3 linked regions of the Homo sapiens genome follow. The protein of the gene in region 1 interacts with the protein of each later gene in a pairwise test. Each region holds a gene or a part of one and is shown in the gene's direction. Other genes may lie near its edges. The genes, in order: CAP2, GRXCR1 and DNM1L.

Region 1 (3,756 bases):
TAAGTATCAAAGAGTTGTGAGGAAGAAGTGTTCACTGGGGGCTAGCCCTTTTGGGGAGACATCATATAGCAGACAGATGCTATGACAGGGCTAGTTAAGGGAAGAGTTCAGGCTTCAAGTTGAGGCTCGTTACTTTCCCCTCCAGACTAGCTAGTTATTTCTTAGTGGATTTCCCTGCCTCCTATCTCTTTCCAGTCCTATATACCACCACCAAACTAACCATTGCTATCATGATTATGCTCAAAAATGGTCAATAGTCCCCCAGTGCCTACTACTTAGGCTTCAAACATTTTAGGCTGAGATTGAAGGCCTCTACCAGCCAGGGCCTAACCTTCCTTCCATACCTGGCTTCCACAGCCCTCCAATCCAGCTAAACTCACAGACTGTCCTTCATACATGCCATCCTTTATTACCTCTCCACTTTTGTCCCTGCCCATCATCTTGAGGGTTTTTCCTCCACAATCCACTCTTAATGTCTCATTTCCGCATGAAGACTCAACTTTCATGTCCATCAGAAAGTGTTCTCTAATCCCCAGTCTAGAAGCAACCTTCCTTTCTTCTGAACATCCATGGAAATTTGTTCATACTTCTTTTAGAATGTTTTTTACGACATTCCTAGAACTGTGGTTATTTTTATACTCTTCACATCTTCCTACTATATTATCAACCTAAAGACAGGATTTGTGGCTCATCCACTCTTAGACTCCATAATACTTTATACTCCAATAAAAAACAGATGTAGCTAAGGAAATACTGTGCTAATGTTTGTTGAAGTTAGTGCTAAAAAAAAGTCATATGAATGGATGCTTGGAACTTCCCTGTGATCCTGCACACATTGATTCTTATGGATATATATTTTTTCTGCATTTCTGGAACACAAATGTTCTAAATGCATACATACTTCATCCATCCATCCATTCATTCATTATTTAATACAAACATATTGAATGCCCGCCATATGCAAGGTATCCACAGGATAGGGAGGGTGCTGGCTCTGGCTTTATGCAATGTACGCACTCATTGATCAATGTTTATGTCATTTTGTTTCCCTTCTTTCCAGACAAAGGGAAGCAAAGACTCACTGCACCTCATTACTGTCAGCAGAGAGCAATGTGTAATTGGAATGACCTTTGTATAAGTGCTGACCTATGGGGTCAGAATAAGCCTTATAATGTACAGAACCAACTTATGTGCAATTTTAACATCGACAGAGAATATTGGCCTTTAAGAAATTCATCTCATATTTATTGTTTGGAGATTTTACTTTCAGAAGATATCAGTTACATTTCCCCTCTTTTTTTCTCTTTTCTGCAATTATTTTCCTGGCATTCATTCAATAAAGAGCTTCAAGTCACTTTTTTAGACTGAAATAAACTTTGATGAAAATTGAAAATCAATGCTTTCCTTCTAATGACGTTAAGAGAAAAGCCTCCAATTTTGCAATTATAATCAATATATAAAGGGGAAGTGGCCACAAATATGCTGCACATCTTAAGAAGCCAAGTGGGTTTGGTTACTTTAATTTTTAAATAATCAGGACATTTAAAAAGTTGCTGTTTATAAAATACTTTTTAAAAATGTCATCACACGCACTATGAGTGCACTCAGTCTTGATGTCTCGCTAAAGCATTAGCTGTCTAGCTCCTTCTCCTCCCAGAGCCTTTATCCTCATATTGGGTCTGGGGACACACATGCCGTCTCTTGATTCCTAAGGATCCATTACCCATTTCTCTGCACAGATCTTCGGGTATCCAACCTATCTGTGCCTCCTTCAGCCAGGAGCCTCCGGATCTTTCCAGACTTCTTTGCAATACTGCCTCATGCACTGAATCCATTTCTCGCATAGCCTGGCGCTTGGCAGGCAGGCTGGCGTTCCCTGGCTCTGCCTTCCCCATCTCCCTGTCTTTTCTCCCACGGCCCATCTGCCCCTCCTTTCCTCCACCCCCTTCTCCTCTCTGCTCCCCTTTATTTCCACTCCCCACCCGCGTGGCTTTGCTCTCCCTCTCCCCCCTCAGCTCGTCTGTATTTGGAGCTCCGGAAGCTGCCGGCGACTCTCCCCTGGAGCAGCGTGACTGACACCGGCTCCTATTCAGCTGGGAGGAGGGAGAGGGGAGGAGAAGGGGAGGGCCGCGGGAGGAGGGTACGAGTGGCCGACCACGGATTTGCATTGCCGAGGACGGGACCCCAGGGCAGCGAAGCAGGTAATCCTGCAGCGGTCGGGGCCCGGCGAGGCGGGGAGGGGTCGGGGTGCAGGTGCGGGGGGCGCCTGGCGGCGGGCGCTGGCAAGTTGAGCCCGATGGGTGGGGTAGGGAAGCGGCCGGGACGCTGCGGCTGTGGCAGCAGCGCGAGGGGAATAAAGGCGGCGCGGGCGCGGGGGCCGGGGCGCGGCGACCCGGGCGCGGGGCGCGGGCGCGGGCGGACTCCCATCTGGGTCAGCGGAGCGGCGCGCCCTGCCCCCGCCTCCCCAGCTCCGGCGTCCTGGCCGCTCGGAAGGCGGGGTGCGGGCAGGAGCTGCCCGGGGTTGGCGGGCGGCCGCGGCCTCCCCACCCCAGCGCCGCCGCCCGCCCGGCCGCTCTAACTTTGGGGGGTCTCGTCCACCGGGCTGTGAGTCTTCCAGGGGGGTGGGGGTGGGAGTCATTGCGCCGGCTCTGACCAGAGCCACCTCGATCAGAAAGTGCTGGAAAGAAACAGACCTGGCTTCCCCTCTGCAGAACCTGACTTGAGGCGATGAGTCACTTCTAAAAAATGCAGAGGCAACTGAGACTGGGGGAACGGCTCGGAAAAACGGCACCCGCCGCTGGCTCTCTGACTGCTTTGGGTAGAGGGGTGTTCGTGGAAGTAGCCGCCGTATCATCACTTTTAGGGCCAAAAATCAACCTGCAGATGGCCTTTTCTTTATTCTCATCAGAGTGGTGTTCGCTGCAAGTTGTAGCAATATTTGAATGGATGCATTCTTAAAAATGAGTATGTATGGGTGACTGCATTTAGGAAGTTGAACCGGGACTAGGTCCAAACAGCCAGAGTGGAGATGAACACTTGGTAAAAACATCTAGGACCTTTGGTTTTATAGTTATGGAAATGCAGAAGCTTCTGGGACTTGAGCACTGTAGTTTACTGAGTACTCCTATTTCCTTACTGCTTCTGTAGATTTCATTGAAGCTATGTTCCTTAGAATTCTTGGTAAACTATCTAAGCCCACTTAGTGTAAAATTACAACGGTAGAGTGAACTTTAGAGAATTGGATTTATAGTTACTAGAGTCTAATTAGACTGCAAGCCTCTTGAAAGCAAGGATGGGTTGTTTGGTAGTTCCTACGGCACCAAACAGTATTTGGCTCACAGCATGTAATGGATAGACAATAAAAGTGTGTGAAATAGTTAATTCAGTACCTTAAGTGTAGATGGAGCATGACTTCTTGAATATACTGCATATTTTGCAAGGAAAGGCGACTTCTCCATGAATCCCGAAATTTAAAAAATTCTTAATAACATTACAATCAAAGTGTCATATAAATACTTCTTAAGGATAAAGAGAAAAAGAAGTTGACTATGAGAAATCAGGAAGGTGATTATCAAGGTGGTCTTTGCTAGTAGGAAGTAAGTTTTTGTTCCCCATCGTTAATGTGAGAAGTAATTTAATTTGTTGATACAGGGTAGGGTTTGGTAAACCTTTGAGTTAAGAGCTAGATAGTAAACATGTAGGTTTTGCAGGCCATATGGTCTCCTTAGCAACTACTCAGTTCCACAGTTATAGTTT
Region 2 (3,756 bases), on another chromosome or scaffold:
CTACTCAACATTATGTAGAGATCTGATTTGGATGCTTGCCACACTTTTTAAGGTATGTGTATGTCATTTGGGGTAATGTACATCTTAGGCATATGTCTTAGGATGATAGTGTATATTCCCATAGGCATCCCACAGAGAAGCCCCAGGGGCTAGAAGCAGAAGTTATTATTCAGTTATTCCTATACCCTTTACCAGATATGACTTTTCCCCCTATATATTTTCCATATCCCTTGCAAAGTAAGCGGTAAACTTGACTGGATGTAATTTAGTAATCTCCCTCAGGGAGGAAAAAGTGAGCAGTCGGTATCTTGGATATTTGATTAAGGTTTCAATGCACAGCCAATCTTATTGAAGCAAGGAACTGTGATTGAAGAAACAGTGAGGCTTTTCTTTTTAAGTTTTAAAACCTTAAAGCACTTAACCTTAAACGTGAAAGAAAACCCTAAATATAAATAAAATATTTCAAAGACCCTGTCAATCACTTGCTTCTTCTGTATTAGTTTCCCACTCTTTTATCCCTGTCTCATAAAACATTGGTATATGTCCTGCAAAAATTTCAACTGCACAGAAAAAAGTCATTGCAATTTTTGCCTTAAAATATTTTTACTTTGTAGCAGCACTTACTTAGAAAGTTGTCTATTAAAGGAATATCAGAATGAATTTCCATTTTATTGGTCAATTAGTTTACCTTATATAATCCTGGGTATTTGATGATGTGCAAAATTAATCAAGGTTGTTAAAGGTAGTGATGAACCAGGAGGCAAAAAGCAGAAGGCCACCTGGCTGCTCAGGTGGGCGTTGTAGAGAGTGGTTAATGGTGAAGCAAAATGTCTCTAGCTGTTCTAGATTATGGCGCTTCAGCTCCAGGTGGTTGAATTTGCCAACTCTCCCAGAGATAACAAGAATACAGAGCTCGAGAGAGGCCAATTTGGAAATCTGAAAACCTAGAATCTAGCCATGACTGTGGCCTGGAAATAGGCGTTTACTAGAAGTTCTTTAGGTTATTCTTACATGCACTAAGGCTTGAGAATCATTGACCTAGAGTATCAAAGAGAAATTCATCCAGTTCCCAAGGGTAAATAAAAATATTAATGTTCCTTATCTCTTCAATATTTAATAAAGAAAATGAATGAGATATGCAATGACTTGTTATTCATTCTTTTGATCAGGTTAGATTATCAGAAAAATTTTTCTGAGCCAAAGATGAATAAAGGTTATCCCAACAGCCATGTTTCCCATGAATATTCAAATTTATCAGTTAATTTGAGAACAGGTCCAGAAATCTTACCAGGACACTCTGATGTAGTTGGTCTCTTTTTAATACTCTTTAAGAAATTCTGCTCTTAGAATATCTCTATCTAGATACATAAGTTTATTCCTCATTACTGGAAAATTTTAAAAATATATTTACTTTCTTTAAAAATTAGCCATTGTTTCTTCATGCTAAGCAAATTATAAAATCAACATATAGCTCATACCTGTCAGTACACAGTTGACATGATTGGATTTGAGATATACTTTGCTGTTAGCAGCAAAATATTTCCAAATTCTCTTAGAGTGGGTCAATGATGCAGATAATTAAGGCTGCTTATTTTTGATAATTTATTCTTATGAGATTACATTTCAGACAGCGATTTTTTTCTTGACCTTATCCTCAAACTGTGTGAATAAACTGTTAGAATATTGTACTGTCATTTCCATAATTTTAATTTCCTTTCCTTCTCCAAATTTAAAATTACTGTATTAGAGATAAATAGGTGCAAAGAAGGAAAATAATTACAACACATACTATAATTTGGCATTTCCTTTCTAGGAACTCAAATTAAACATATAACCTCCGTCTATGTATGTACATGGATATTTCCGGTTAGTGTGATTGTATTTATAAGCATTCTAATATTTCAAGACAAATGAAATAAAAGTAGTATGTTTGTGGAAAAACCAGTATGTTTGTGGAAAAACCTAAGGACTCATTCTGAGAGATTTTGGAAATATTTTGCTGCTAAGAACAAAGTATACCTCAAATTTAATGATGTCAACTGGCTACTGAGAGGTATGAGCTGTGTGGTGATTTTGTAATTTCTTTAGCATGAAGTAACAATGGCTAATTTTTAAAGAAAGTAAATAATTTTTCTAAAATTTTTCAGTAATGAGGAATAAAATGTTATTTTGCATTTTACACAGGGATTTCACATATATTATTTTAATTAATTGTGCCCAAAAGTTTATAAAGTGAACAGAAAAGTTATTACTATTATTATTATTATTATTATTATTATTATTATTATTCTTATTATGTCTGTTTTTAGATAACTAAGTGTGAGAGAAATCCAGTCTCTGGCCCAAAGCTAGTAATGCAAGAACTCTGCCCTTTGCTGTTTTGGCTTTCACAGTTTTCAAAAGTGTTGTACTATATGCATAAACTCCCAACTTTATGTTTTGAAATGTCATGATAACAAACATGAAGACTAAATGTATCATGTAATAAGACTAAACATATCATGTTATTATATAATCTGGCCTTTTGAAATTTCAACATTTAGTTAGCAGGTTTTACAATTTATCATTTATTGAACATTTGATCTTCATCTAGAAAGGTTTTTTTTTCTGCAGAGTTAAATAGCTTCAATTCAGCTTTGAATTGTATTTTTAAAAGGTTTATATCATTTCTATAACATCGTTTGATTAAAGTGTCATGAGGTTGCAAGGATTGACACTGAAAGAGGATGACTTGTTTACCTCAAGTATACTGGTGCTTACAGTGGTTCACTATCTCAGGATGGGTAGTGTTAACACACCTTTCCAGCAGTATTTATTATGCATCTCTGGTTCACTGAATCAAACTCCGATAATAGAATAATAGTTCAGTAAAAACAAGGTGATATTCTTGATGACTCCTTAGTCCCAGTGGTTCATTTGGACCACTCTGGGAAAATAATTAGCATTAAGTACTTATTGAATATTAGACACTGTTGACATTATTTATGTGCATTGATATTTATTCCTTACAACAACCCTGTGAGGTATATTACTATTAATCAATTAATTATCAATTAATTATGATCTGAGCTTCTTCTCTGACAGAAACATTAATTTATAGGATTTAAAATGTTATGTATCCTGAGAAATTCTTATGTAGTGTTCTGTCAAGACTATCATGTATTAATGGAAATATTATCTTTTTAGATATTAAGAGGTAGGTAAAGAAGCTCTAGGATTTTTGATACAATTCCAAATGATGCGAGAAACTACACTAAGAGATTAAGTGACTTATGTAAAAAGCAGGAAAGAAAAAGCAGCAAAGATGAGTTGGTACTACTGATATTTATGCACAATTAAAGAATTGTAAACTGATAGAACTTAGAGTCCTGTGACCACCTTGCACATACCATCCTTGGCTCTTGCTTATGGTATTAGCGCACATACTGAGTAGGACCTCAATAAATTTTCTTCCTTGAGTTAATGAATTAACCCTCTTAGTGGTTATTTTCCTCTTCTCCATCTCTTTTGGGTTTGGAGATTTCCCATAACGGACAGGACTAGAGTTTGCATGGCGAAGTGTTGCTGGCTTGCTTCATTCCATTCTTTCTTTTGATCATTTTCAATCATTCATTAATAACTATTTACTGCATATCTACCGTGAGACAAAAAATATGTTAGATAATGTGAGGACTAAAACCCAATTCCTGCCTTCATGGACTATCCAGCAGTGTGTTGTGAATGATTGTGTAAAGCAATTCCTGGAGGAACTCAGAA
Region 3 (3,756 bases), on another chromosome or scaffold:
AGGACAGCAGAAGAGAAACTAAAAATGTGAGTCTCTTGCTTCAGAATGGAAATGTTGGTACCTTTGGTTCTCACTGAAACACTGTCTATACCACCATTAAAGAACCTGTTTGTGTAGTGGTATCTATCTCTTGTCTGTGTTATGTTCTTAATGTTCCTTTTATCTAACCTGTGGAAGATGGCATTAAACGTTGTTTTAATTAGTAACAATAATAGGCTTTCTCACTGTTTTGTTACCTTCAAGAATAGTTTTAAATTTAGTATTTTGGTAGGAAATTCAGAGATTTCCTAGATTTCAGAGATGGAATTGTATTTTTGGACATTTCCTTTCCTCTTTAAAGATCTTGAGATCTGTTCAGTACTAATAGATCTAATGCTTCTTTCTTATGCTTCCAGTTAGTTTGCACTTGTTACCCTATATATAGCTTCACATATGCTTCAGAAGCTTAAGCAAATTAAAAAAACAAATGGGGACTGTGAGAGTTTGAGACTGTTTTCAATTCTTGATAACCATTTTAGAGGAAAATTAAATAATGTATAAATTATTCAGACTCATCGCTATTTCAAGATTTTCTGCCATTTAGCTCCTTTCCTTAATTATCCAGATTTAAAGTTCTGAACTTCAAATAAAGGTTTATAAATGTCTTATCTTCTCTCAGCCCACTGTGCTCAGATATTAATCAAACCATCTAAATCACTGCACAAGTTTTATTTCATTCATGACGTCACACTGAATGTGCTCTCTCTCCTTAAGATTTCATTTGGTATGTCATTCATGTATAGTTAACAAACATTTAAAAATCTAATTACTCATTTTTAAGTTAATGTGTAACATAAATATACTACTTATATTTAAATGTAGTTCACCTTAACTGACATACTAAAGACAGATTTTAGCAAATATTTTGATTCAGAATGATACCTCAAACTACCATTTTTCTAACTGCCATAATCCTCTATTAAACTTATATAATCCATTTTTAGATTGTAAGATCTTAAAGAATACCTAAAAAAAACCCTCTTAAATGTTGATGAATTGTTTTTCCATTATAAAGTCATTTTTGACTTTTAGAAGTCAAGACTAATACATTTTCTAGAAAACAAGGTACAAAAGCACTTGTGATTAATGGTAGCACTAGATTTCTTTCAGCAAATCCTTAAGAGTACAGAGGTTGAGGGGACTTCTGTTGTTTGTCACATTCCGCATTTGAAACAACTCACAGTGACTGTCAGCCTAAGAATAGCAAATGTAGTCTTGCTTTTTGTTAAAGAGTTCTTACTTATACCTTATGGCATTTTTGTTGACTATTAGAAATGTAAATTGAGAAACATATAAACTCTTAAGTTCAGAGACGTAAGTTCATGGAACTTTTAGAGTTTAACAGTGTTAATGATTACTTAAGAAATTAAACTGAATAGCAGTTCTTTGTGCTTTTAACGAGTAGTTTTGTTTTTAAGGGCAGCATATACTTTTCCTACAATTTAGTGTTTGAAGGGTGGGAGAAGAGGAACGATTTTGAAAAGTTAGCGAATGATAAAGAAAAAAGGAATTAAATAGAACATAAGTTGGTTGATGCCTTGCAAACAACTTAGAGCAGAACTTCTTTATTATTTAGATAGGTCAGGGTTCCAGTTATACATGCTACCTAGTGTCTCCTTCTGACCTCATTATCTGTCTGAATAAACTTCAGATGGGTACTGGATGTATATTGACTACTGTCAAATAAAATGAACTTTGTTTTAGTTAAGGTCAGATATGATGTGGTTGGTATGTTTTGGAACATGTTTTTTCAGGTTGCATCTGGAGGTGGTGGGGTTGGAGATGGTGTTCAAGAACCAACCACAGGCAACTGGAGAGGAATGCTGAAAACTTCAAAAGCTGAAGAGTTATTAGCAGAAGAAAAATCAAAACCCATTCCAATTATGCCAGCCAGTCCACAAAAAGGTCATGCCGTGAACCTGCTAGATGTGGTAAGCCATGACAATTTGGTTTAGGTAATAAGGTAGGTGACCAAGTTAGTAGGAAAACGATTAGACAGAAAGAACTAAAAGTCTCAAAAACTTACATAACTTTCAGATGTTAAAGCTGCCATTTTAGTGTCACAAAAGTAATATTTTTTCCCCCTCATCCCTATTTAGCCAGTTCCTGTTGCACGAAAACTATCTGCTCGGGAACAGCGAGATTGTGAGGTTATTGAACGACTCATTAAATCATATTTTCTCATTGTCAGAAAGAATATTCAAGACAGGTTAGTATTACTTAATATAAATGACGGACTTTAATACTTCTGGATGATTCTGTGATCTGTTTTGAAAAATACATGTATTTTTACAATTTTAGGTTTTTATTCTAAATCATCAAGTGGATTTTCTGATAGTCCTTGGGTAACTTGTAGCAAGACCCATTTTGTTAACATAGAATGACTAGGACCTCATGTATCAGCTAGAAAAAGCTATTAAAAATGAGAGATTCTTTTGTTCTATCTGGCTGCCACATTTTGAGTCATTTAAGAAAATCTTTTTCCTAAATTTTAATTTAGTAGTTTCATTAATTATTTTGGCTAGTAACACTGACTTGCCTTTTTAATTTAACTTGGTTTTCCAAAGTATCAAAACGAATGTCTTTTACTAGGAAATATGTGTATTTTTTCTCGTTCAGAATGTTTTTTCATGTGTCTAGTCCCTACTGCATCTTCTCCTTCATGTTGCCTGGTATGTCATTTCATGCAGTAATAGGGAGAATATACATTTAGTTGTGTGAAGTGATCTATTAGAAAATATTCTGCATCCAGTTTTTGGTAATCTGTCAGCAGCTAAGATGAATTTTACTGCACAGAGTAATAAACAGTCTAATACTTCATATTGAAATAAATGATTTTTGTCTGTAGAACCATTTATCTTTTTTGCTTGTAGACTTTTTAAACCCGTAGCTTGTAGTAGAAATAACAGTTCCTAGTGTTTTACACTGTGGGCCTGAAGAAAAAAATTCCATTTGTTTCCTTCCTTGCCCCCATCCTCTGCAGAAGGTGTTTTTGAGATGGAGTCTCGCTTTGTCGCCCAGGCTGGGGTGCAGTGGCGCAGTCTTGGCCCACTTCAACCTCTGCCTTCTGGGTTCAAGCGATTCTCCTGCCTCAGCCTCCTGAGTAGCTGGGATAACAGGTGTGCACCACCATGCCCAGCTAATTTTTGTATTTTTAGTAGAGACGGGTTTCACCATGTTGGCCAGGCTGGTCTCGAACTCCTGACGTCAGGTGATCTACCTGTCTTGGCCTCCCAAAGTGCTGGGATTATAGGCGTGAGCCACTGCACCCGGCTCACTTAATGTTTTTAAGCCTCATCCATACTGTAGTATGAATCAGTATAGTCACGCACCACATAACATTTTAGTCAACAGACCACGTATTTGAATGTGTTCCCGTTAGATTATGATACCATGTTTTTGCTGTACATTTCCTATGTTTAGATACACAAATACTATTGTGTTACAGTTCCCTATTCAGTACAGTAACATGCTGTACATGTTTGCAGCCTGGAGCAATAGGCTATCCCATATAGCTTAGGCGTGTCATAGGCTATACCATCTACGTTTGTGTAAGTACACTCTGTGCTGTGCATGTAATGAAATCACCTAATAATGCATTTCTCAAAGCATATCCGTGTCATTAAGTGACATATCTTTTGTGTGAATAATACTAGATTATGTAGATATACTGTGTTTAAGCATTCATCAGCTGATGTTTGGATTTTTCTCACTTCT

Evidence for each region.
Region 2: the proteins of CAP2 (region 1) and GRXCR1 interact in binary tests that used the Homo sapiens proteins (3 or more experiments, as listed by UniProt).
Region 3: the proteins of CAP2 (region 1) and DNM1L interact in a two-hybrid assay, tested with the Homo sapiens proteins (one study listed by BioGRID).

What each region holds. Positions count from the first base shown.
Region 1 is NC_000006.12:17,391,546-17,395,301, forward strand, and holds the start of CAP2 (adenylyl cyclase-associated protein 2), read left to right. Parts: upstream 1-2,049; 5' UTR 2,050-2,201; intron 2,202-3,756. UniProt on the Homo sapiens protein: Involved in the regulation of actin polymerization.
Region 2 is NC_000004.12:42,895,670-42,899,425, forward strand, and holds part of GRXCR1 (glutaredoxin domain-containing cysteine-rich protein 1), read left to right. Parts: intron 1-3,756. UniProt on the Homo sapiens protein: May play a role in actin filament architecture in developing stereocilia of sensory cells.
Region 3 is NC_000012.12:32,738,271-32,742,026, forward strand, and holds part of DNM1L (dynamin-1-like protein), read left to right. Parts: coding exon 1-26; intron 27-1,793; coding exon 1,794-1,970; intron 1,971-2,138; coding exon 2,139-2,248; intron 2,249-3,756. UniProt on the Homo sapiens protein: Functions in mitochondrial and peroxisomal division.